Linked DNA regions of Homo sapiens: region 1 is linked to region 2. The links come from fine-mapping of genetic effects on gene expression. A gene starts in region 2. The other region holds a variant in brackets. All regions are shown on one strand. Distances are between the middles of the regions.

Region 1 (2,808 bases), 790 kb after region 2:
AAATATATTTCGTGAGATTCTATTTTTTCTTTGATCTTACTTTGGTATGCCCTGACTGCTACAAAACAAGTAAGTGCTGTTGCTATACCGATAACAGAGATTTATTTGGTCCCTCAAGCTGATCAACTGAGGGATTTAGGTCTGTAACCATGTCTAGAAAAAATGCAAATGTGGGTATTTGATAATGTTTTCTTACTGTCAGTATGCATTTGGAAAGCATTCAGCATTACTTCTTGGAGTTAATTGTTTTATAGAGCTAATTATGAAGGTTTTAAGACCTCTTTGCGTAGATGTTGTTTTATTTTTTAGAATAAATTTATTCCTACACCTATTTTCCAGAAAGACACTGGTAGAATCATTCTAATAATAAGATGGAGTGGAATGAAGGGGACACTAATAGAAAATGAAAGGCCATGAAATGTAAATATACGTCTTCCTTTCAGTGGGTGTAATTTATTATTGACACACAGGACTTTTAGGACGACTGAATGATGAAAGAAGAGAAATTCTCGAAATGACTGAAAGAGAGTGGTGAGTACTTCCGCAACCCCTTCCATGAGTGTCTGTGCCTCTCTGATTTCTCTGAGTACAAGAGGATGCAAGCCCCAACTGAGGGCAGGCTGAAAATGTCAGAGAAATTAACATCCTGGGAGTGACCATTAACTAACACCAAGAAGGAATTGGTAGATATATTCCCCTGAACTTAGGGGGAACAACTCAGAGGTGGTTTTATTTTTTGTTGTTGTTGTTTTGTTTTGAGATGGAGTTTCGTTCTTGTTGCCCAAGTTGGAATGCAATGGCACGATCTTGGCTCACCGCAACCTCCGCCTCCCAGGTTCAAGTGATTCTCCCACCTCAGCCTCCTGAGTAGCTGGGATTACAGGCATGTGACAGCACGCCGGGCTAATTTTGTATTTTTAGTAGAGAGGGGGTTTCTCCATGTTGGTCAGGCTGGTCTCAAACTCCCGACCTCAGGTGATCTGCCTGCCTCAGCCTCCTAAAGTGCTGAGATTACAGGCGTGAGCCACTGCGCCCGGCCCTCAGAGGTGTGTTTTGTACCAGTTTTCAGAGGTGAGCTCCAGTTTTCTATAGAGCTAATTTTTCTATATGGCTTCCTTCTTTTCCCTTACTTACTTTCCCACACCTCTGCCAATGCTTTCTCCAAAATAAACTAATTGCACTAAGGTGTGGTGGCTCACGCCTGTAATCCCAGCACTTTGGGAGGCTGAGGCAG[G/A]TGGATCACGAGGTGAGTAGATCGAGACCATCCTGGCTAACATGGTGAAACCCTGTCTCTACTAAAAATACAAAAAATTAGCCTGGCGTGGTGGCAGGCGACAGTGCGAGACTCCATCTCCAAAAAAGTAAATAAATAAATAATAAACTAATTGCACTTACATTCTAGTGCAGAGTCTGATTCTGGGTGAACTAAGAGAGTGAATAACATTTACTATTTCAGTTTCTGTACCTCGATGTCCAAGTGTCCTCAACTGGGTTCTCTCACCAGGTCAAAATCAAGGTGTGATGTGAGTTGGCTGGGGTTTACCTGTAGGCTTTGGGAAAGAACCCATATCCAAGCTCATTCAGATGGTGGCAGAATCCTGGTTCTTTTTTTTTTTTTTTTTTTTTTTGAGATGGAGTCTCGCTCTGTCGCCCAGGCTGGAGTGCAGTGGGGCGATCTCGGCTCACTGCAAGCTCCGGCACCCACCAGCATGCCTGGCTAATTTTTTGTATTTTTAGTAGAGACGGGGTTTCACCATGTTAGCCAGGATGGTCTCGATCTACTGACCTCGTGATCCATCTGCCTCGGCCTCCCAAAGTGCTGGGATTACAGGAATGAGCCACTGTGCCTGGCCAGAATCCAGGTTCTTACAGTTGTAGGACTGAGGTCTGTTTCCTTGCTGGCTGTCATCTGCGGGTGCTCTAAGCTCTTGCAGGCCACTCTACCCTGCTCACACATTGACCCCTGCATCTTCAAAGACAGCAAGGATGCATTGAATCCTCCTTGTGTTTTGATTCTCTGACTTTCTCATCTGATCTGCTTTTAAAAGAGTCACCTGATCAGGTCAGGCCCACCCAGATGATCTGTATTTTAAGATCAGCTGACTTTGAGCTTTAATTACAAAATCCCTTCAAAGCAATACCTAGATTAGCATTTGATTGAACAATCAGGAACAGAAATCTGGAAGGACTATATTTAGAATCCTGATTACCACGCTGGCATTGGGGTTTACTCAGTTTCTTGATTCCATAGATGTATGTCTTTTACCAGATTTGGGAAACCAGCCATTATACCCACTTCCTCCTTTCCTTCTGGGTCTCCAATGACATGAATGTTGGCTCTTTTGTTAAAGTCCCACAGGTCCCAAAGTTCTGTTCTTCACTTCTTATCAGTCTATTTTCTTTCTGTTGTTCAGATTTGGTAACTTTTATCTGCACTGATTTTTATCTCTGTCATCTCCATTCTGCAGCTGGGCTCAAACATTAAGTTTTTAAAAAATTTCTGTTATTGTGCTTTTCCATTCTAAAATTTCCGTCTTGTTCTTTTTCATATCTTCTATTTCTTTGCTGAGACTTTCTGGTTTTTCACTTATTTCAAGTGTTTGTAATTGTTCATTGAAGCATTTTTATGTTGGCTGCTCTAAGATTCTTTTAAGACAATTCTAACATCAGTGTAGTGAATTCTTACAATTTTATAGAAACTCAGTATCAATTTTTGAAATGTTATTGTTTTGAGACAGGGTCGCACTCTGTCACCCAGGCTGGAGTGCAGTGGTGCAATCACGGCTCACTGCAGCCTCGAGCTCCTGG
Region 2 (2,808 bases):
CCGATGTAAAACCTCCCTCTATAACCTCAGACACAGCCTTACACACACCACTCCACAGCCAGATTGACAACCACAGCAACAAACACGGCTCAACCACAGCCATCCAGCACTCGGGCTGTGTCCCAGACACACAGCAGCTCCCACACTCACACAGAGCCCCGGGTGCACAACCGCACAGCTGATAATCATAGGCACAGTCCCACACACTGATCCCTGACGCGGACCCCCTTTTCCATCCTGTCACCCGCTTGGAGGAGCATCCCACTTAAATGTCCACGTCTCCACTCCCATCTCCCACAAACTCTCCGTTGCACACCACTGCCAGCCACGGTATCAATGCAGATCACACACCCTCTAGTTCCTCTCTACACACACACACACACACACACACACGCACACACGGCTTCACACACCTCCACACCTCACTCATCCAACCCCAAGGTTCCACGCGCACCGTCCCATGAAACAGCTCCACTTCTGGACACAGTTCCGCCCAGCCCCATGCACCATCACAGTGACACACAATCAAAAGTCAATCATAGTCACCTATCACTGATCCAGTGCCACACTGTCCACCACACGCGCGCGCGCACACACACACACACACACACACACCAACAGGCAGAAAGACAACCACAGCCGCACAGCCTCTTGGTCAATCACACCTAATCCTACAACCAGTTCCACTCTCTGCCATGAAGACAGCCACACACACAGCCACACACATGCACATCAGGCCAAGCAGAAAGTCGACTACAGTCGCACTAGCTCTTGGTCGTAAAGTGCTACCAGCAATCCAATTCTACACACACACCATTCCAGTCAGAGGTCGCCCACGTTTTCACATTGCTAAAAGTGTCACATCATACACACAGTCCCATCACAGGGTTACACGGACAGTCGCTTTCACCCTCATACCCACAGCCTGACACACTCTCTTACACACACGCAAAGCCACACACACACACACACACACACACACAAACACAGGCAGGCAGGAGACTCCCATCGTGGCCCAGCCCCGCAAGCCGCACCAACTTACCCTGGCCTGCCCAGCCCCGCGCACCAGGCTCACCCGCAGTCACAAGGGCCCCCTCCCTCTCCCTCCCAGGCCCCGCCCCGTCCTCGCTGTTTACCTGCGCTGGGGTGGGGGGCATGGGACCCCAGCCAGGCCTCCAGATCCCGGAGAGCCCCAGGACGGGGCAGGGGGCATCCGGGAGCCCCAAGGCCCTTCCCCGTCTCAGGGCGAGCGGGCCCAGGGTTGCCCCCGCCCCCCATCATCGCGGCTCTCCGAGAGTCCCGCGCCCCACTCCCGGCACCCACCTGACCGCGGGCGGCTCCGGCCCCGCTTCGCCCCACTGCGATCAGTCGCGTCCCGCAGGCCAGGCACGCCCCGCCGCTCCCGCTGCGCCGGGCGTCTGGGACCTCGGGCGGCTCCTCCGAGGGGCGGGGCAGCCGGGAGCCACGCCCCCGCAGGTGAGCCGGCCACGCCCACCGCCCGTGGGAAGTTCAGCCTCGGGGCTCCAGCCCCGCGGGAATGGCAGAACTTCGCACGCGGAACTGGTAACCTCCAGGACACCTCGAATCAGGGTGATTGTAGCGCAGGGGCCTTGGCCAAGCTAAAACTTTGGAAACTTTAGATCCCAGACAGGTGGCTTTCTTGCAGTGCCTGCCCCAGAGCCTTTTCCTTGGTTGTGTGGCCTGCTTCGATCTCTCTTCCCACAGATCTCATCGTCTTTAGGTCTCTTCTCAAAGGCCACCTCCTCCGGCAGGCCTTCCCTGATTGCCCCCTTCTAAATGGCACCCTTCCACCAAAACATTACATACTCCTCTTGATTTTGTTCACAAAACTTTTCAGGGCCTAAAATTACCTTATTTATTTATTGAGAGGGAGTCTCGCTCCGTCACCCAGGCTGGAGTGCAGTAGCGCGATCTCGGCTCACTGCAACCTCCACCTCCCAAGTTCAAGCGATTCTCCCATCTCAGTCTCCCGAGTAGCTGCGACTACAAGTGTCTGCCACCACGCCCGGCTACTTTTTATATTTCTAGTAGAGACGGGGTTTCGCCATGTCGGCCAGGCTGGTCTCAAACTCCTGACCTCAAGTGATCCTCCCGCCTCGGCCTCCCAAAGTTCTGGGATTACAGGAGTGAGCCACCGCCCCCGGCCCCTAAAGTTATTTTATATAACATATATCACATCATTATGTTATGTTATATATTATGTTATTGGCAAGGGAATGTGATATCTAAGAATTGGGCTCAGGGTTCAAATTTGATTCCGGCACTTACTTGCTGTGCAGGCCTTGGGCAAGTAACTTAACCTCTCTGTGCCTCAGTTTCCCTAGTCAATAAAATATAAATAGTCTAAGGCTTTGAGAATTGAATGTTAACTAATACAGGGACAGTACTTTTTTTTTTTTTTTTTTTTTTTTGAGACACAGTCTCGCTGTGTTACCCAGGCTGGAGTACAATGGCGCTATCTTATCTTGGCTCACTGCAACTCCTGGGTTCAAGTCATTCTCCTGTCTCAGCCTCCCGAGTAGCTGGGATTACAGGCGCCCGCCACCATGCCCAGCTAATTTTTCCATTTTTAGTAGAGACGGGGTTTCCCCATGTTAGCCAGGCTGATCTCGAACTCCTGACCTTAGGTGATCTGCCCACCTCGACCTCCCAAAGTGCTGGAATTACAGGCGTGAGCCACCGCGCCTGGCCAGGACAGTACTTTTATCAGGGCCTCGCAAATAGAAAGTACTTAGTAAATACTCGCTACTGACTGTATATTATGGGTTCACTTTTTCTCCTCTACTA

Evidence for each region. PIP is the estimated chance that this variant, and not a neighbour inherited with it, causes the effect. A credible set is the group of variants that fine-mapping cannot tell apart.
Region 1: its variant is the best candidate, but not a certain one, in a credible set for the expression of KLC3 in whole blood (INTERVAL, PIP 0.59).

What each region holds. Positions count from the first base shown.
Region 1 is chr19:44,554,325-44,557,132 of GRCh38, reverse strand. It overlaps the pseudogene CEACAM22P. Among named protein-coding and RNA genes, the nearest start is that of CEACAM20, 26 kb to the right of the region's middle. The variant G/A (reference allele first, on the strand shown) is at 1,235.
Region 2 is chr19:45,339,362-45,342,169 of GRCh38, reverse strand. It overlaps KLC3 (kinesin light chain 3), which reads right to left and starts at 1,420. Exons shown (of 13, transcript NM_177417.3): 1 at 1,324-1,420. RefSeq lists a silencer at 1,435-1,524.